Linked DNA regions of Homo sapiens. The protein of the gene in region 3 interacts with the protein of the main gene of each other region in a pairwise test. Each region holds a gene or a part of one and is shown on either strand. Other genes may lie near its edges.

What was found.
Region 1: the proteins of NSG1 (region 3) and C16orf92 interact in binary tests that used the Homo sapiens proteins (3 or more experiments, as listed by UniProt).
Region 2: the proteins of NSG1 (region 3) and ATP6AP2 interact in binary tests that used the Homo sapiens proteins (3 or more experiments, as listed by UniProt).

The regions. Positions count from the first base shown.
Region 1 is NC_000016.10:30,018,908-30,025,221, forward strand, and holds C16orf92 (fertilization-influencing membrane protein isoform 1 precursor), read left to right. Parts: upstream 1-4,290; 5' UTR 4,291-4,433; coding exon 4,434-4,497; intron 4,498-4,739; coding exon of another isoform or gene 4,740-4,819; coding exon 4,820-4,978; intron 4,979-5,088; exon of another isoform or gene 5,089-5,091; coding exon 5,092-5,179; intron 5,180-5,298; coding exon 5,299-5,320; 3' UTR 5,321-5,797; downstream 5,798-6,314. Other genes in the region: TLCD3B (ceramide synthase), read right to left, coding at 6,276-6,314. UniProt on the Homo sapiens protein: May play a role in sperm-oocyte fusion during fertilization.
Region 2 is NC_000023.11:40,583,956-40,590,986, reverse strand, and holds part of ATP6AP2 (renin receptor precursor), read right to left. Parts: intron 2,002-7,031; coding exon 1,871-2,001; intron 1-1,870. UniProt on the Homo sapiens protein: Multifunctional protein which functions as a renin, prorenin cellular receptor and is involved in the assembly of the lysosomal proton-transporting V-type ATPase (V-ATPase) and the acidification of the endo-lysosomal system.
Region 3 is NC_000004.12:4,404,101-4,411,131, forward strand, and holds part of NSG1 (neuronal vesicle trafficking-associated protein 1), read left to right. Parts: intron 1-5,472; coding exon 5,473-5,583; intron 5,584-7,031.

The sequences.
Region 1 (6,314 bases), on a different chromosome or scaffold from region 3:
GAGGCAGACGGAATGGAAAGAGAGAGAACCATTTGATTTGGCAGATTATGAGCTCTTTTGTGGACTTGATCAAAGCAGCTTCAGTGGATTGGTGGGGACTAAGCCAGATTAGAAGAGGTTGAAGAATTGGCTGGGCGAGGTGACTCATGCCTGTAATCCCAGCACTTTGGGAGGCAGAGGCAGGCAGATCACCTGAGGTCAGGAGTTTGAGACCAGCTTGGCCAACGTGGTGAAACCCCATCTCTACTAAAAATTAAAAAATTAGCTGGGTGTGGTGGTGGGTGCCTGTAATCCCAGTTACTCAGGAGGCCGAAGTGGGAGAATCGTTTGAACCCGGGAGGCAGAGGTTGCGGTGAGCCGAGATCGCGCCACTGCACTCCAGCCTGGGTGACTGAATGAGACTCCATCTCAGAAAAAGAAGAGATTGAAGAGTCCATTAAAGATGAGGGAGTGGAGACAGCAGGTGTAGATGACCCAGAGTTGCCCGTCTACTCTAGAATGATGCGCATCTATGAGTTCTCTCCCTTGTCATTCTTGAGGTCAGGGACCGTGCCGTGGTGATTTCTGAGTCATAAATGGAGTCCAGCCAGTGCGTAGCAGGAGCTCAGCACGTTTATGTCATGGATGAATAAATGGGTGAATGGATAATGCATTGTTTGGGTCAAAATGGCCTTTACTAGTAGAGATAGCTTAATGTTTTTGAAGCATTTGAGGAAACAAAAGAAAGTCAACCCCAAAGGCCATAGGTTCTGTGTCCCTTCTCCCAGCTAACCTCAAGGAGCAGTTGCCTGTGGGCCTGGGGCACGAGCCCTGGCCCAGCGTCGGGAACCAGGTTATTTATTTATTGAGACAGAGTCTCGAGTGTCACCCAGGCTGGAGTGCAGTGGTGCGATCTTGGCTCACTGCAACCTCCACCTACCGGGCTCAAGTGATTCTCCTGCCTCAGATTCCTGAGTAGCTGGGACTATAGGCACGTACCACCATGCCTAGTTAATCTTTTTTTTTTTCTTTTTCTTTTTGAGATGAAATTTCACCCTGTCACCCAGGCTGGAGTGCAGTGGCGCAATTTAGGCTCACCGCAACCTCTGCCTCTTGTGTTCAAGCAGTTCTCCTGTCTCAGCCTCCCGAGTAGCTGGGGCTACAGGCGCATGCTACCGCACCCGGCTTATTTTTGTATTTTTAGTAGAGACGTGGTTTCACCATATTGGTCAGGCTGGTCTTGAACTCCTGACCTCAGGTGATCCACTTGCCTCGGCCTCCCAAAGTGCTGGGATTATAGGTGTGAGCCACCGCGCCCAGCCTTTTTTTGGATTTTTAGTAGAGAGGAGATTTCATCATGTTGGGCAGGCTGGTCTCGAACTCCTGGCCTCAAGTGATCCACCCATCTTGGCCTCCCAAAGTGCTGGGATCATAGGTGTGAGCACCGCGCCTGGCCCAAAAACCACATTACTGAGTCCCTTCTGCTGCCTCTCACATGCCTTGTGGCTTTGGATAAATCCCTTCCTTTTTCTTAGAAGTGATCTGCATGGCGGCTCACACCTGTCATCCCAGCATTTTGGGAGGCCAGGGTGGGAGAATCACTTATGCCCAGGAGTTTGAGACCAGCCTGGGCAACATAGCAAGACTCCATCTCTGCAAAGAAAAAAAGAAGTAGGCTGGGCGCAGTCGCACACGCCTGTAATCCCAGCACTTTAGGAGGCCGCGGAGGGCAGATCACTTGAGGTCAGGAGTTTGAGACCAGACTGGCCAACATGATGAAATTCCGTCTCTACTTTAAAAAACTACAAAAATTAGCCAGGCATGGTGGCATATGCTTTTGATCCTGGCTACTCGGGAGGCTGAGGCAGGAGAATCGCTTGAACCAAGGAGGCAGAGGTTGCAGTGAGCCAAGATCGTGCCACTGCACTCCAGCCTGGGCAACAGACAGAGACTCCATCTAAAAAACAAAACAAAACAAAACAAAAAATAGGCAGGTGTGGTGGTGCACGCCTGTGGTCCCAGCTACTTGGGAGGCTGAGGTGAGAGGATCGCTTGAGCCCAGGAGGTCGAGGCTGCACTCCAGCCTGGGTGACAGATAGAGCAATATCCTGTCTCAAAAAAAGGGAAGCCATCAGCGCAGCACAGGGGAAGCAGCCCACGTGAGCCAGTCCCATAGATATTCGTTTCCCTCCTTCCCCACCCCCGCCCCGCTGCCCCCTTTTTTTCTCTCTCTGGGCTTTTTACTTGTTTAGGAACTCGAAGCGGTTCATGGCAAGTACCCCGAGTCCTAGCCCACCTGCTCTCTGCATAGGGTTGCGGCAGAGCACCTCACACGCGCAGATACACGCCTGGCTTTAGGGGAAGTCGCGGCACTGGGTCTGCAGAGTCCGCTGAGCACGCACCTTCGTTGTGAAACTAAGGAAACCCTGGAGTGTCCTTGGGCTTGGGTGGGATGGAACATGCCCGTGACAGACAGGCCCACCTGCCAATCAGAAGGGCGCTCTCCTTAGCTGGGATGGGGCCGCAGGAGTGGAAATGGCTGTTGGGAGGTGGCAGAGATGGGAGATGGGGTGGCCACGGGGGAGCCGCCGGCCACAGAAGAGGAAACGGAGGTGCAGGGAGCGGAGTCTGCGAAGGACGCGTGGATGGCCAAGAGATGTGCCTCGGAAAGGGCCGAGGGACTTCCTCTGACCAACCCCCGACGGCCATTCCCAGCCATCCGTTTTCCTGCAGCCGCGGATGCAACCTGTGGAAGAGGCGGGAGGAGGCCCGGGAGTCCGCCCCGCTGCGCCTTTCCTAGGGTGGGAGCGTGGACTCAGGCGCGGCCGCTGCTGCCACCTAGTGGGAGACGCCTGCTACTCCTCTCGGTTCCTAACCCCAGGGTCGTTCCCGGCTGAGCACTAAGGAGGGGGCGGGGGAGGACGGAGAGAGCCCTGTGCCCCTGGATCTGCGGATAGGATGCAAGGGGGAGCCTCAGAGAGGAACCCCCCCCCCAGGAAGTGTGCATTGCCCACACTACTTTTCCCCTCTGTGCCGTGATTTCCTCCCGTGTATAAGGGAGGCAAGAGTACCTGCCTCTGGGCTGGGCTTGGTGGCTCACGCCTGTAATCCCAACACTTTGGGAGGCCGAGGCAGGCGGATCATCCGAGTTCAGGAGTTCAAGACCAGCCTGGCCAACATGGTGAAACCCCATCTCTACTAAAAGTACAAAAATCAGCCGAACAGTGATGGTGCGCGCCTGTAATCCCACTCCAGGAGGCTGAGGCAGGAGAATCGCTTGAACCCAGGAGGTGGAGGTTGCAGTGAGCTGAGATTGTGCGTCTGCACTCCAGCCTGGCGGACAGAGTGAAACTCCATCTCAAAAAAAAAAAAAAAAAAAAAAAAAAAAAAGAGTACCTGCCTCTGAGGGTCAGTGCAAGAGCAAATGAACAAATTTGTGCAAGGTACTTGGCCATAAATGGGGTCCAGCCAGCATAGTAATAGGTGTTCAATAAATGCTACCTGCTGGGCATGGTGGCTCATGCCTGTAATCCCAGCACTTTGGGAGGCCGAAGCTGGAGGATCACCTGAGGCCAGAAGTTCGAAACCAGCCTGGGCAACATAGCAAGCCCTCATTTCTACAAAAAATGCAAAAATTAGCCGGGCATGGTGGCACATGCCTGTGGTCCCAGCTACTCAGGAGGCTGATGTGGGAGGATCACTTGAGGCCAGGAGTTCAAGGCTGCAGTAATCATACCACTGTACTCCAGCCTGGGTGACAGAGTGAGACCCTGTCTCTGAAAATACATAAAATAGGCCGGGCGCTTTGGGAGGCCGAGGCGAACAGATCACCTGAGGTGAGGAGTTCAAGACCAGCCTGACCAACATAGTGAAACCCTGTCTCTACTAAAAATACAAAAATTAGCCGGGTGTGGTGGCAGACAGATAAAAGGAAGGGATTTATCCAAAGCTGTAATCCCAGATACTCAGGAGGCTGAGGCAAGAGAATCACTTGAACCCAGGAGGCAGAGGCTGTAGAGAGCCAAGATGGCGCCACTGCATTCCCACCTGGGTGACAGACAGAGACCCTGTCTCCAAAAAAATGAAAATAAATAAAACAAATGTTACCTGTGGTTGATCCAAGGGGTAACCGGAGGTGTGTGGCCCTGTGCCACCACCCCAAATTGTGCCTGTTGTCCAAACACAGCTTCCTTTAGTTCGGGCTTTCAGCAAGATGGCCGTGCCGCATCCCTCCTCTTTGTAAATGCTGGGGCTGCCACCATTATGGTTTTATCATCAGCGACATTCCAGGGGGTGAAGACTGGTCCCAACCTCTCTTCTCCTCTCCTCTTCTGATGAGAGTGAGGGATGGGGGAGGGGTCCCAGCTCCTAGCACTTTCTCCCCTCACCCCAAAGTGCCATCAGAACAGCTCTGGGCTGTGACATCACAGAGCCCCCACCTCATGATAGGAGTCATGAGGCTGTGGCCATGGGTGCTGGTGTGGGTGTGGCTGGCTGCACTAGGGGCCATAGAAACTGGTAAGAAGCTGTCTTGGGAGCAGCAGGAAGGCAGGCAGCTCTGGGAGCATAAAGTGTGATGCCCACTTAGGGACTCGGAAGCCAACCCTGCACCCTCTCATTTTCTCTCCACTCTTCTCTCCCATCCTGCTGGTCCCACCTACCCCCCAACAACCGCGAGCCTTGTCGTGGTGCACCCAGCTGACCCTGAGGGAAATCAAGACCCTCCACAGCCTCTGCAATAAGGCTGGGTGGTCTCACAGGGTCCCAAGTCAGCTTCCGCCTCGAGAGATAAAGGCAGGGGTCAGCTTGGCTGTTGTCACAGAGTTTGCTTGGGTCCTAGCACCCAGACCCAAGCGTGCCACGGCGTCAGCCCTGGGGACAGAGTCTCCGCGCTTCTTAGACAGACCTGACTTCTTCGATTATCCGGACTCAGACCAAGCCAGGCTGCTGGCTGTGGCCCAGTTTATTGGAGAGAAACCCATCGTGTTCATTAACTCAGGTATGAACCAGCTTGAGAAGGGACCTCCCTCCCCGCCAGGGTCTGGAGGAGAGCAGCCCCAGACCCTTCATTGGGCCATCAGAGGGGAGTTAAGGGTCCTGTTTGTCTAGCAGGTTCCAGCCCCGGGCTCTTCCATCACATCCTGGTGGGCTTGCTGGTGGTGGCGTTCTTCTTTCTCCTTTTCCAGTTCTGCACCCACATGTAAGGCCTGCCCCCTTTCTCCAACCCCACCCACCACCACCTTCCTTGGGAGCGGCTGAAGACCCCAGTTCTAGCGGGGCAGGCTGTGACCTCTCCCCTCTGATCTCCATGCCCCACAGAAACTTCCAGAAAGGGGCCTAAAGAGCCGGACAAGGGCTCTGGACTCAACCTGAGCACCCACACCCACCTCCTCTCCTGTTGATGAGCAAAAGTTCCCTGCTTTCCTCCTCCCTGACTGCCCAGCGAGCAGCTGGGGATCCTGTCCCCTCTGTTTCCCATGGCCCAAGCCCCCCACCTCCTCCCTTCCCAGCCCCAAAGAACTTGGTGGCAAGGGCCTTGGTGGCGTTCACGCAGATCGTCTTTTATTAGCGGTCTGTAAAGCACCTCCCAGGGTCCCCCGACCCCAGATTGGAGGAAGCCTTGAGAGGTCAGTAGCACCAGGGACATGGCAGGGCCCGAGGGCGCGATGTGCAGCCGATGGTGAGGGACTGGGCGCCCTCGCCTGCCCCCGGGGTTGTCAGCACTGGGAAGGCTTGGGGGTAGCAGCCACCTCCTTCCCCCAACCCAACAGACTAGTTCAAATTTGGGTAAATAAATAAAATAAATAAGATTCCTCAAGCTGGCCTACCCTGGAGAGGAGCCGTGGTTGCAGCCGGCCACTCGGGAGGCCCGAGGGCCAGCGGGGGTTAGTTGGGGCGTCCTCTCCTCTCGGGTGATGGGGAGCCCTGGGGGATGGCAGCATAGGGGCTGGGATGGCCTTGGCAGAGGCGTCTCCCCACATTCTGACTCCTGGTCCCCTTGAAACCCTGTTGGTGTCCCTCCCCACAAGCCCTCCTGCCCTCAGTGGGTGGGAGGCGGTGCCCCCTCCCCTCCTCCAGCGCAAGGGTGTGCAGGAAGGGGGCAGAGTAGGGGGAAGAGGTCCCCTCTCTCCACCCCCTCAGTCCCCGAGAGATGGGGCCTCTTCCCTTTCGGGGTCATCGTCAGTCCTGGGGTTGTCCGGGCAAGAGGACCCTGGCTCCCAACCCCAGCCATCAGCCCCAGAGCCCTGTCTCCACGGGGGTGGGGGTGGGGAGGGGGAGGGTCCCGGCCCCCGGCCTCAGTCCTGGGCCTGGCAGGCCGGGGGCGGCCGGGAGCG
Region 2 (7,031 bases), on a different chromosome or scaffold from region 3:
CTTTTGTGGAAAAAAGCAAGCAAGTAAACAAAACATAGGTACCTTTCAAATTTCAGATCACAAAATATTTTCTTCATGTAGCCATGGAAATTTTCTTCCCCCACATCATTTTTTGCCCTCATATACAGCATCACTTTTATCTTTCACAGAGACATAGCAAGATGGTCATTAAAACATCCTCTTTAGACTAAGATCTTTATAAATAAAACAATTCCTACTAAAAGTAACTATCATTAGTTTACTAATAATTATTTCTCAGTTATTTTAATAGCCATCAGTAGTCAAGTTTAAGGTTGTAAAGAACTAGATGGTCAGGTGTGGTGTTCACGCCTGTCATCTCAGCACTTTGGGAGGCTGAAGCAGGTAGATTCCTTGTGTCCAGGAGTTCAAGACCAGCCTGAGCAACATGGCAAAATCCTGTCTCTACAAAAAATATAAAAATGATCTGGGCATGGTGTTGTACGCCTGTGGTCCCAGCTACCGGGGAGGCTGAGGTGGGAGAATCTCTTGAACCTGGGAGGTGGAGGTTGCAGTAAGCCGAGATCAGGCCACTGCACTCTAGCTTGGGTGATAGAGCGGGACCCTGTAGCAAAAAACAAAACAAAACAAAACAAAAAAAGAATTAGGTACAGGCTGGGTGTGGTGGCTCGTGCCTGTAATCCCAGCACTTTGGGAGGCTGACGCAGAAAGGATTGCTTGAGGCCAGGAGTTAAAGACCTACCAGCCTGGACAACATAGCGAGACCCTGTCTCTACAAAAAATTAAAAAATCAGCTAGGCGTGATGGCATGCATCTGTAGTCCTAGCTACTCAGAAGGCTGAGGCAGGAGGCTGAGGCAGGAAGATCACTTGGGCCCTGGAGTTTGAGGCTGCAGTGAGTCATGCAGACTCAAACTCAGCTTGGGTGACACAGCCAGACCCTGTCTCTAAAAAAATAACTAGGTACAAATTTCATCCTTAAATGTAAACAACCAATCCTGTTCACTTTGGTTGCCCAAAGACTACAAAAAGCTCAGGGGCTCTGCCCTTAGGCCTGGCAGTGAAGCAGTTCCCAGGTAGAGTTTCTGTTTTCAAGGGTGCTCAGGATTTGGAGAAAAGTTCCTTTCAGTGACTGATGATATATATCTAGAGACCACATCAAAAGCACCAGACTTACAAAGAGAAGGAGATGATAGCACCGAGCAAGCTGTATTTCCTTTCTTCTGAGCCCTTACCTTTCGATCTCTCACATTGACTGGATCTAGACCCTCCCGCCCCCTACAATCACATAAGCAGCCAATTACTACAACAGGTCATAGCTCCATTCTAGGAAACCAAGGTCCTTGGCTGCCCCATGGCTACTGACCACATTATTTTCCTAACCTCAGGCATAATGCATATATATTTTATCATTCATAGTGAATCTATCGCCTATACTAAAAAAAAAAAACCAGAAAGTAGATATCCTATTAAGAGTAGGACAGATGCATTCTCTAATATACAAAGAATTTCACTACTATGAATAAATAATTATATAGTTAATGATTTCTAATGATTTGTTTCAGAAGCCAAGCTTGAAGCACTCATCCAAAATCTTCCCAACTACAAATGGGTTTTTAAAAAATTAATTCATTTATTTTTGAGATGGGAGTCTCACTATGTTGCCCAGGTTGGTCTCAAATTCCTGGGTTCAACTGAGCCTCCCACCTCGGCCTCCCAGAGTGCCGGGATTACAGGCGTGAGCCACTGTGCCTGGTCCAGATGAGCTTTTTAACTTTTGTAATCTGTACCAAACGTACCTACGTTCGTTTGATGCTTTTTTGGGCTATTAGCAGAAATCAGTAAAAATGTTCTTAAAAGCAGCTCCAAACATTTAAAAAATATATACATACTTCTTTCACAGAGAAGCCCATGGACAATGCAGCCACGTCTGGGATCCGCTCTCCTGGTATAGGCCAATTTCCATTTCGGAAAACAACAGACCCTGGTGATTTTAATATACTAAACTCGTTCCCCAAAACACCTGAAAAGAAAACAGATCAGTAAATGAATTATCAACATCATAAATCATTTACCTTGACAATTATTAAATATAATACATGTTTCCCCATTCACCACTGACTTAGCGTATTAAATTATGACTGGTCAAAATGCTGAGTCCTAAACAATAACAAATTCTTTTTCAAAGTATCACTCTAAGAATTTAAGTCCACACATTCTGCTGGAACAAAAGTACAACTATCAGAGCCTCTCTGAACCTATTCTGGTTCAGGGTCTGCCTGATAAGAACAAGAAACAAACAAAAGTCTCAAAAAGAGATCAACAAAGGTACAACTACAAAACAGGGTTTCCTAATGATATAGACACCTTCCTACTGATGGCTCTTAAAGAGGCATGTGGCAATTTGGCAGGAATTAGAAATCAGTGGCATATCTCCAAAATTTAAAAAACAAAAAACAAAGCCCAGGCACAGACTAAAAAGGAAGAAGCTTGAAATCTCTAAATTATTTCTACCATCAATCCTTTCTACACAATGCAAATTCATAAAGTTCCTATTATTTCACTATAAGATTTTACCAGGTTACTATGTCTTAGGATAGGTAACATCTTTCCTTATGTCCCATAGGCAACCCTAGTGAAATAAGGACTGTCAAATGTTGGGGGGGGGGGGGGGCATACATGTCACAAGTAGAAACATAAAAACACTTCAGACTTTAGAAACAAAGTCCAGGAAACAGTATTTGTAGTTGACATGTCAAGAGGGTAAGAAAAGGTATTCTGTAATGATAAAGTCAACTAGTCTAAGGATTCAGGATTAAAAGATAAAGATGAGAATAAAGGGACTATTTTATAAGCTCTCCACAGCTAAGGATGAGGTATTTGGCCTCTTCATCCATTATCTATTAACCTCGTGATGTCTAGCTTACACAGGGACAAGTAGCTAATTTCAGTTACTGAAAGGAACTTTTCTCCAAATCCTGAGCACCCTTGAAAACAGAAACTCTGCCTGGGAACTGCTTCACTGCCAGGCCTAAGGGCAGAGCCCCTGAGCTTTTTGTAGTCTTTGGGCAACCAAAGTGAACACGATTGGTTGTTTACATTTAAGGATGAAATTTGTACCTAGTTATTTTTTTAGAGACAGGGTCTGGCTATGTCACCCAAGCTGAGTTTGAGTCTGCATGACTCACTGCAGCCTCAAACTCCAGGGCCCAAGTGATCTTCCTGCCTCAGCCTCCTGCCTCAGCCTTCTGAGTAGCTAGGACTACAGATGCATGCCATCATGCCTGGCTGATTTTTTAATTTGGGGTTCCTATTAAAAAAATGGGCTCCAAGTCTAGAACAAATGTTAGCCACACCTAGTATGGGAAAATTAGACTTTAGTAAAGAATCAGTGTTATTCTCTTGACCTAAGGAAAGTACCACTAACAGGGGATGGAAATAAAGTTGGAAGCAACAGTAAATGTTTTGGTGTTGCAGTATTGACAGTAAATAAAAGGCTTCAGGTTGGTGCTGATACACGGGAGTTACAAATTTCAATCCGGCACAGCTGTCAGAACAGGAATGTCCAAACTGCTCTAGCTGAAGACAGACCAAAAAAATTAGCAGAATGGAATGGTCTTTTGTAACTGATAGATATCTTGGTTCACTAAAGTAGTAGTACTGCAAACACTAAGAAAAATGGGGAACCAAGAGACCTATGCTTCCCAAGAACCATACACATATTTTGTTTGTTTGTTTTGAGACAGAGTCTCACACTGTCGCCTAGGCTGGAGTGCAGTGGCACAATATTGGCTCACTGCAACCTCTGCCTGCCAGGTTCAAGCAATTCTCCTGCCTCAGCCTCCCAAGTAGCTGGGATTACAGGTGTGTGCCACCATGCCTGGCTAAATTTTGTATTTTCAGTAGAGACAGGGTGACACCATGTTAGCCAAGCTGGTCTCAAACTCCTGACCTCAAGTGATCGGCCCGCCTCAGCCTCCCTATGTGCTGGGATTACAGGCGTGAGCCACCGCGCCCAGCCCCAGGTACCATACACATTTAAAAAACCATATTTTGATTTGGAGATACCCTTGTTTTGAGACACGGCCCTACTCATTCAATTCTGGCAAACCTATACCAAATAACTTTGCCCCAGCTTCGTAGTTTCAACTTCCATGCCTGTACAACAGTCCTTCAGAAGCCCAGAGCTTTAGAAAACCTTAGAGTCAGGGACTCCTATACAGAGGAAGGTCATTTGTCCAAACTTCTGCTTATTATAAGTATAAGCATGTCTCAGGGATACCTGGCAGAAAGTCACCCCTCCTCTATTTCAATACTACCAGTGATGGGGACACCACCTCAATATACGAACTACATTTGCCAGCAACTGGCTCCATTTTCCTAACATTCTAGTCCTTTGAAAAGTTTTTCCTTGTACTGAACTGAAATGGGCTTCCTAACTTTCAACTTCCTATGCTATCACTCCCCAACTCAGTCTCACCAGATAACCTCATCTCCAGCTTCACAGAGAAAACAGAGGAATTTCTTGAGCTACCTGCTTCCTCTCCCCACCACAAATTTATCTGCATAAGCCCCTATCTGTAACTCCTCTCCCTCCAGACATGAGGGCAGGGATGTCCCTCCTCCAGACTAAGACAATCCTGTGTTCAGTCTTTTTAGGGACCTTTGTTCCTTCACTGTTTGTTAAGGAAGCCACTCTTCTAGGACAGACAACACATCAGGAGTGAGGTGGCTATATGGTAATAGCCATCAAAAGATGGCCCTATAGAATACAAGCTCCATGAAGGCGGGGATTTCAGTGCGTCTTGTTCACACACTATCCCCAGGGCTGAGAACAGAGCCCGACACATTGGTGCTCAATAAGTACTTGTTGAGTTAATGAATGAATGAAGTCACACTTCAAACCACCAGTTTTTTCCCTCTCCACTGGCCCTTTCACTTCAGCATAAAAATACGCTCAAGGCACTCCCATTCTATAACTAAAACCATAAAAAACCTCCTTTGGTCCTACCAGTCTCCACCAGCTACCAGCCTTGCTCCCCTTCAGAGGAAGAATCCAGGAAGAGCAGTCAACCACCGTTTGCTTCTATACTTCATTTTAAGTTTACTACTTAACCCACAAAATTTTAAAAATTTTTTTTATTTTTATTTTTTGAGACAGGGTCTTGCTGTCACCCAGGTTGGAGTGCAGTGGTAAGGATCTCAGCTCACCGCAACCTCCACCTCCCAGGTTCAAGAGATTCTCCTGCCTCAGACTCCTGAGTGGCTGGGACTACAGGCACGCACCACCACGTCTGGCTAACTTGTGTATTTTTTTGGTAGAGACAGGGTTTCACTACGTTGGCCAGACTGGTCTCGAACTCCTGACCTCAAACAATCCGCCTGCCTCGGCCTCCCAAAGTGCTGGGATTACAGGCGTGAGCCACCCCACCTGGCCGCCCACACCTTCCAAGCCCACCATGCCACTGAAACGACTCCCCAAACTCAAAAGGCAATTTCCATCCCTTAATTTTATCTAACTTCCCAAAGCATTTGATACTGGCAACTCCCTCCTTGAAAAGCCCCTGCTTTGGTCTTCATGCAGCCACGGCTCCTGGTTTTCCTTGCAATCCCTTTGGCTGCTTCTCCTCTGTTTCTTTCCCTTCCTGTCCTTTAAAGCAGTGGTAGCCAAACTTTTTAGATTTCAACCCTGTCAGCCCAAAATTGGAAAGTAGCCCTTCTTTCTTCTCTCTGTCCCTCTCATCCTCTCCATGTAAAGTATATACTTCTACTATAGTAATAGATTATGTATTTGATTTGTGCTATATTACAAAGCATACAAAAATAAAAGTTTTTAAAAGGATGAGATACCTGTGTAGTATTTTTCCCAATCTAATAATGAGAAAACATCAGATAAACCCAAATTGAGGGACAGTCTACAAAATACCTGACCATTATTATTCAAAAAGAGATAAGATAAAAATAGGCCAGGCATGATGGCTCACACCTGTAATCCCAGCACTTTGGGAGGCCAAGACAGGCGGATCACTTGAGGCCAAGAGTTCAAGACCAGCCTGGCCATAATGGCGAAACCTCATCTCTACTAAAAATACAAAAATGAGGCCAGGTGTGGTGGCTCATGCCTGTAATCCCAGCACTTTCAGAGGCTGAGGCAGGCAGATCATTTGAGGTCAGGAGTTTGAGACCAGTCTGGTGAACATAGTGAAACCCCGTCTCTACCAAAAAAATACACAAGTTAGACAGATGTGGTGGTGCATGCCTGTAGTCCCAGCTACTCAAGAGGCAGAGCACCTGAGGTTGGGAGTTCAAGACCAGCCTGACCAACATGGAGAAACCCCGTCTCCACTAAAAAAATACAAAATTAGCCAGGCATGGTGGTGCATGCCTGTAATCCTAGCTACTCGGGAGACTGAGGCAGGAGAATCACTTGAACCCGGAAGGTGGAGCTTGCAGTGAGCCAAGATCATGCCATTGCATTCCAGCCTGGGCAACAAGAGTAGTCCCAGCTACTTGGGAGGCTGAGGGACAAGAATCACTTGAACCCCAGAGGCGGAGGTTGTAGTGAGCCGAGATCGTGCCACTGCACTTCAGCCTGGGTGACAGAGCAAGACTCTGTCTCAAAAAAGGAAAAAAAAAAAAAAAAAGATAGAGGCTGGGTGCGATGGCTCACACCTGCGTGTAATCCCAGCACTTTGGGAGGCTGAGGAGGAGGATCACTTGAGCCCAAGAGTTTGAGACCTCATCTCTACAAAAACAAACAAAAAATTAGCTGGGTATGGTGGCATGCGCCTGTGGTCCCAGCTACTAGGGAGGCTGAGGTGGGAGAATCGCTTGAGCCTGGGTGGTCGAGGCTGCAGTGAGCTGTGATCACACCAGTGCACTCCAGCCTGGGTGACGGAGTGAGACCCTGTCTCAAAAACAAAAACAAAAAGGATATAAATGGAATTTCTAGTACATTCATCTGGCATCCAAATGGATCACCTAGCATACTCCACTTTGGAGATCTGAGGGCTCCATTCTTGACTCTTACTGCTTTCCTATTCTACATCTCTC
Region 3 (7,031 bases):
CAGGCTGGAGTCACTGCGAATGGCCGCCACCTCTCTTTTTGCATAGCCAACACCGGCCTCTTAGGATCACCTGGGTCCTGTTGGCCGACTTGGAGGTGCTGCCTTTTCAATGACAAGGCGTTTGTTATGTGTAAAGAAAGGCGTTGAATTGGACGGTCTCCAGCTTCTGCCCAGCATGGAGCCTGCAACATTGTGTGGGAGTGGGGCTCCCATAGGGTAACAATGGCTCACCCAGCTCACCGTGCCCACTGTTTGCCAGCCATGGGGTCTCCTGCACACCCCATCATAGACGCAGGTGCTGGGCCGGCATCCCCCTTTCACAGGAAACCAGGCGTTGGGGCGAATGCCCTTTGCAGGGTCACTGCGTGTGGCCGAGCAGGCCAGGAACCCGGGCTTATCTCACTTTTAGTCCCTGGCATGAATGGCTAGTTCGTCCATCAAGTATTTTCAAATTGGTTGAACGATGGAGTTGCTGGTGGTCGTGGTTCTCCAAGATGCTTCCGATCATGGCATGTTGTTGTAGAGGAAGCTTAAAAGATACTGCAAGGTCCTGGAGGAAACGCCGATGTCTGGCTCAGTAACATCATCCAATGTTCCAGAATTCTTCTAAGTATCTCATGGGGAGGGGGCAGGGACTTAGGAAAGTCTCCAAACTGTGACACTTTTATTTCACTTTAATTAGGAAAAAAGAGATGCTGGGCTCCTTGGTGCCTGCATTCACGATTGGTGTCCCGATAGAGGCTGGGATGTTCCAGAGCCTTCCTGGGGCAGGGGGCCTGGCCAGGGCTTTGAAGGGCAAGGAGAGAGGGCAGGGCAGCCTGGCATGGTGCGGAAGGAACGGGGTAATGGCAGAGAGAACAAGTATGGGGGAGGGGAGCCAGTCCTGACCCCTGTGAAGTCACTCTGCTGTTAGGGGCCCTATAACAAAGTACCACAAACTGGGGGGACTCAGAGCAACAGAAATTTACTCCCCCACTACTGGAGGCCAGAAGTCTGAAATCAAGGCTTCGGCAGAACTGTGCTCCCTTGGAAACCTGCAGGGGAGACTCTGTCCTTGCCCCTCCTAGTTCCTGGAGGTTGCCACCATCCTTGGCTTTGCTGTGTAGACACAGTGCTGTAATCTTCCGTCCTCACGCGGCCCTCTCCCTATATGCGTGTCTGTCTACATCCAAATTTCCCCTCTTTATAAGGACACACCAGTTTGGTTGGATTAGGGCCCACCCTGATGGGCTCATTTGCAAAGATCCTATTTTCAAATCAGGTCCCCTTCACAGATCCTGGGGGCTGGACTTCAGCATCTCTTTTTGAGGGGCCCAGCGTGCTCTCAACTTGTGGTCTCTTGTCCTTCTCCTGAGATGCGTCAGGGTGTAAGGCATGGTTCCCCCACTTTGGCGATGAGATGTGGGGCCCAGAGAGGCCAGGTGACCTGTTCAAGATCACACAGGCAGCAGCTTACAGGATTCAATTCCGAGCCAGTTTCTGGAGAGGCCCGTGGCCCTCTCTCTCCTTAGGCCATGGACCCCATGCTGTGCCCTGCAGTGGCTGAGGAGACCCCAGCTCCAGAGTCTGCACAGGGCAGGGGGAAGAGAGAGCTCAGCCTGTAGGGGAGCTCTTTGCCACACCACGGGCCGCCCGCTGACTCTCCCTGGATGTATTTCTTTGCCCTTCTCCCCTTGACTGTTCCAGGGACTCTCGCATTCTCGTTGCACGGTTCGGCTGGCTCCTCAGCCGTTGGGCCTGGGATCCTGGAGGAAAGGCTTGGCCAGGTTTCGGAGGACACCCCCGAGGAGGTGGTTCCCCCACAGCCCTGCAGGAGAGAATGGGGGTTCTTTTTAAATCTAGACAGGTGGGGTACCAGGAGCCAAACTGATGTGGCTTCCCAACTGGAGAAACAGGTTTAATGATGCCCCATCTCTTCAAGGACTTGAAACCCTCTTCTTTTTTTGAGACGGAGTCTCACTCTGTTGCCCAGGCTGGAGTGCAGTGGCGCGATCTTGGCTCACTGCAACCTCCACCTCCTGGGTTCAAGCGATTCTCCTGCCTCAGCCTCCTGAGTAGCTGGGATTACAGGCACTCACCACCACGCCCGGCTAATTTTTTATATTTTTAGTAGAGACGGGGTCTCACCATGCTGGCCAGGCTGGTCTTGAACTCCTGACCTCATGATCCACCCGCCTCTGCCTCCCAAAGTGTTGGGATTACAGGCGTGAGCCACCACGTCTGCCCCTGAAACCCTCTTCTAACAGGACATCTGCACCTGTGGTGGCTTGGCTCTCTTCTCAGAATAGTGTTTTCAGATGCACAGAATAAAATGCAAAGGGTTACGAAGGAGGCCAGTTAAATGGAACCAAGTCCTTCTGGACCACCCTGAGTGAGGCAGCCCTGCAGTGTAGACTTGGAGAAAGGCAGGTAGCTGGAGCCCGGGCAGGCTGGCCCCGGGTGAACATGCGACGGGGCAGCTGGTTAGAGGGTTGAGAGCCCGCTCTGCTGTCTGCCAGGCGCACACCCCAGGGCCAGTGAGGAGATGAGAGTGAGGATAACAGCAGCGACAGCAGACAGCTCCGTCATGCTCCCCCCCAACCCAGGTGCTGTTCTCAGTGTCCCGTGACTGTCCCTGGAAGGCGTTCCTTTCACTGCTATTCACAGGCTGGAGCCAGGTGCCAGACTCCCGGCCAGTGAGCTAGAGCCGCAGGGTCTGTGCTCCGGCCCCTGTCCAGAGCCTGTCCCAACCCCAGGCACCATCAGGGCTTGCGGCTATCATCGCCAGGCAGCCCTCCCTGGCTGGGCTCCTGCCACTGCCTCTGGCTGCCACGTGCCTCAGACGGCTGCGCCTTCTTTCTCCGGCCAGCTCTGCCTGCTTCATCACAGCTCTGCGCTCTGCTGCCCTGGCCCAGGTGCTGTGCGCTGGCCTGTGCACTGCAGCTGTGATCTGGACTAAACGGCGCCTTTCCCTGTGGGCACTGCGGCCCTGGGGAGCAGCCTGGCTCCATCCTGTCTGTGTCCCTTGTCAGGCACAGGCTCCATATGCACTGTAGGCCATCCCAGTGGACTGGAGTTTCTCTGGCCCTTAGAGAGGGTGATGGCCCTGAGAAGGCAACCTACGGTCGGGGTTGGGGGAGTGGAGGCGGGAGACGTGACTGAGGAACTGGCAGGACCTGGGGACCAGGAGGATGGGCCTGCTCAGAGGGGATGTGAATCTGCCTGCCAGGGGCCTGAGGGGTCCCTCCCTAGGTGAAGGGACACAGAGGGGACAGGTCTCATTGGAGTTGTAGTGGGTCTGAGCTGGGGAGATGGGAGGGCGGGCGGTGGGATGTAGCAGGTAGCCAGGCGGAGTGCGAGAGCAGCCTGGGCTGGGGTCTCAGGGTCTTGGTGCTGCCCTTGTCCTGCCCCGGGCACTGTGCTGAGAGCCCCTGGGACCAATGAATCTGGCAGCACAATGGACAGGAATCTGACTGCAGAGAGGCCACGTCCCTCAGCTCTGAGCCACCCCATTCAGCTGGTCCTGTGGCCAGGGCTCCCTGCAGTCAGGATGCAGGCTCGGGGACAATTGTGAGGCCTGGAGATGAAGACCTCCGGGAAGTGGAGGCAGGGGATGAGCTGCAGTGACTAGTGTGGCTCTCCAGGCATCTGCAGCCTTGCAGAGACGGGGACGTGGTGGAGGTGTCGTCCCATGTCATAGGGAAGGAGTCTGTGGCTCAGAGAGGTTAAGGGGCTTCCAAGGTGGTGAGGCTGGTAAGCTGCGAAGGTGCAGAGCTGCAGGCAGAATCTGCACCCTGGGCCCTGGTGCTGGGGCCTGAGCGGCTTGCAGGGGGTGCATAGGGGCCCCCAAAGAGAAGGAGGGTTAGCCTCAGCATTCACGGCAGGGTGGCCGCCCGTCTCCCAGGTGACCATGCTGCACGGCTGATAGGACACTTTCTCACGTACATCTCCTGCTTCCCCAGGACCAGTGCCTGGGACGCCCTTGGTCTCCTATCACAGATGGGAACTGGGGACTGCATGGTGTTAGGGGACTCCAAGCCTAGAGTTCCTGAAGCGGGCAGGGCTCAGGAGGGCACTCTGCTGGAGGGTCTACCCAGTTGAGCTTCGGGACTGCAGCCTTAGGAAGCAGCAGAGCTCCCCAGTTCTTTAACCTTGTTGGCTGTAGGGTCTGTATGTGGCCAGGGGAGAGTCCCAGCCCCTCGCATCCTCCAGGCTGCTGGGAGGGGCGGTGGGGAGCGAGCAGCTCTGTGCATGTTCATACGATTACGGAGGCCCTGCCACGTGCTGGCACCTGGCATCCTCCCACCCGGCCAGGGAGCCCCATCGCTCTCTCTGCCTCTCTGGGCAGGCGGAGGGCCATCTGCACGCTGTTTTAGCTTTTTATTGATTGATTTATTTTGAGGTAGAGTCTCGCTCTGTCACCCAGGCTGGAGTTCAGTGGCACTATCTCAGCTCACTGCAGCCTCTGCCTCCTGGGTTCAAGCGATTCTCCTGCCTCAGCTTTCCTGAGTAGCTGGGATTACAGGTGCGCACCAACATGCCCGGCTAATTTTTATTTTTAGTAGAGATGGGGTTTCGCCCTGTTGGCCAAGCTGGTGTCGAATTCCTGACCTCAGGTGATCCACCCACCTCGGCATCCCAAAGTGCTGGGATTACAGGTGTGAGTCACCACGCCCAGCCCGTTTTGGCTTTGAGACATACTCTCGTCCCTGCCAGGCTCCCTGGCAGCCGGGTGAGTGCCTTCAAGGTCCAGGTCCAGTGTCATCTAGTGACCCATGCCCCGTGCCCTCCAGCCGGGGCAGGCTGTCCCCCTCCAAGCCAGCTGTCTTGCAGCTGTCGTGAGTTCATCTGTAAACACCAGCTGAACACCTACTGTGTGCTGGGGCTGTCTAGTGCTCAGCATACCATGGTGAAGAAAACCGAATCCCTGTCCCTGAGGACACTTAATTAACCACATGGGAAACCGCCGAGGGCGAAGGCCAATGGGGCTGCAGAGGTTCTGTCTTTCCTGGTCCCACGCAAAAGCAGGCTGGTGTCCATGCGACACTGCGTCCCAGCACTGAGCCCAGGGCTCAGGACACATTTGCTGAGCGGATGCTTGGCTGGTAGCTGATGCACCACCGCCGTGATGGGGCAGTGGGCAGCCCAACCCCACTTCTCACACATGTGTCTTAGTGGCCCGAGAGCTGCCTGGGCAACAGTGGGGCTTCTTCATATCTGTACCCTGAGCTCTCTATGCAGGACCTTGGGTACTAAAAATAACTAATTTAAAATGAATGTCACTTATGAATATGGTGAAAAATTAAAATGTTACCAAAAAATTGCCCAGTGAACAGTGATGCTTCTAACCTCTTGTGCCTAGCTGCCCTTACCAGGTTCTTCCAGAGATAGTCTCTGCACATGCTGTGTGGGGGGGGGCCTTCGTGTGCGGGTGTGTGTGTGTCTGTCCTGCTGCCTTCCGGCCACCCCTGACAGTCCCACCTCTGCCCACAGGTCTCCGTGTTGGTCCTCTTCGCCCTGGCCTTCCTCACCTGCGTCGTCTTCCTGGTTGTCTACAAGGTGTACAAGTATGACCGCGCCTGCCCCGATGGGTTCGTCCTCAAGGTAAAACTCCGTTTTCCCCCAGAGGCCCTGGGACGCCTTTGCACCCCATGTTCTCTCCCTTGAACTCAAGGCTGCTCCTGCCGTCTCCCCCAGCTGGCCCACGGACAGGCCTTAGAGCAGCAGGGGGCCAGTGTCAGGAGTGTCCCTGTGGAAGGCCCACCTGGAGAGCAGGGCAGGTAGGCAGGGGGCACATGAGACCCACAGGAAGGAAACTCCCGGACTTGGCCCCTGGGAGCTGACCTCAGCAGTCCGGGGAAGGGCCCTCCTCGAAAGTGGGCCCAGCCAGGGTCTGCCGTGGGAAATGCCCAGGATGATACCTACCGGATCCCAGCGGATTGCTCTGGGGGAGGGAGGGAGAGAGACGGGACCATGTCCGCCACATGAAAGAGGAGAGGATGTACTGGGGGAAGCCAAGTCCCACAGAGAGGAAGGCCTTGCCCAAGGCCACGCAGGGAAAGGGGAGCAGGGCTGGGGGGCACACCCACCCTCCTGACCTGTGTCCCTCTCCTGCCTGTCCCACCGCAGGAGCCACACTGGTGCTGGGCTCTCTACAGGCATGGAAATGCTCGCTTTGCATATATAATGCTCATTCCCAAAAGCCCACAAGTGACATGCAAGGCAACGGGATTAAAGGGAGGGGAGATAAGGGTGGAAAGAGAAGACGGAGCCAGGGGAGGCCTGGCCACGCATCACTTAGTGACGGGAATACGTCCTGAGAAACGCGTTGTTAGGCGACTCCATCATTGTGCCAGCCTCACAGAGTGTCCTGTACACCCACGCGGCCCAGCCTGCTACACACCCGGGCTGGAGGGTATGGCCGACTGCTCCTAGGCCACAAACCTGGACAGCATGTTGCTATACTGAACAATGTAGGCAGTTGTCACACGATGGTAAGTATTTGTGTATCTAAACATAGAAGAGGTCCAGTAAAAACACGTTATAACGCATGGTCCACCTGAATAGGGCATTTCCATCATGAATGCAGCTTGCAGGACCGGAAGCTGGTCTGGGTGGGTGAGTGAGGGAGTGGGTGGTGAGTGAATGCGAAGGCCGAGGCATGGCTGTGCACTCCTGTAGACGAGTGAGCGCTGGACATGTGGGCTACACTCCATTCATAACATACTCTTTCTTCAGTAATAAATTAACCTGAGCTCACTGTAACCTTTTTACTTCATAAACTTTTTGTGTGTGTGTGATGGAGTCTCACTCTGTTGCCCAGGCTGGAGCGCAATGGTGCGTTCTTGACTCACTGCAACATCTGCCTCCCGGGTTCAAGCGATTCTTCTGCCTCAGTCTCCTGAGTAGCTGGGATTATAGGTGTGCGCCACCACCCGGCTAATTTTTGTATTTTTAGTAGAGACAGGGTTTCACCATGTTGGCTAGGCCGGTCTCGAACTCCTGACCTCAGGTGATCCACCCACCTCGGCCTCCCAAAGTGCTGAGATTAC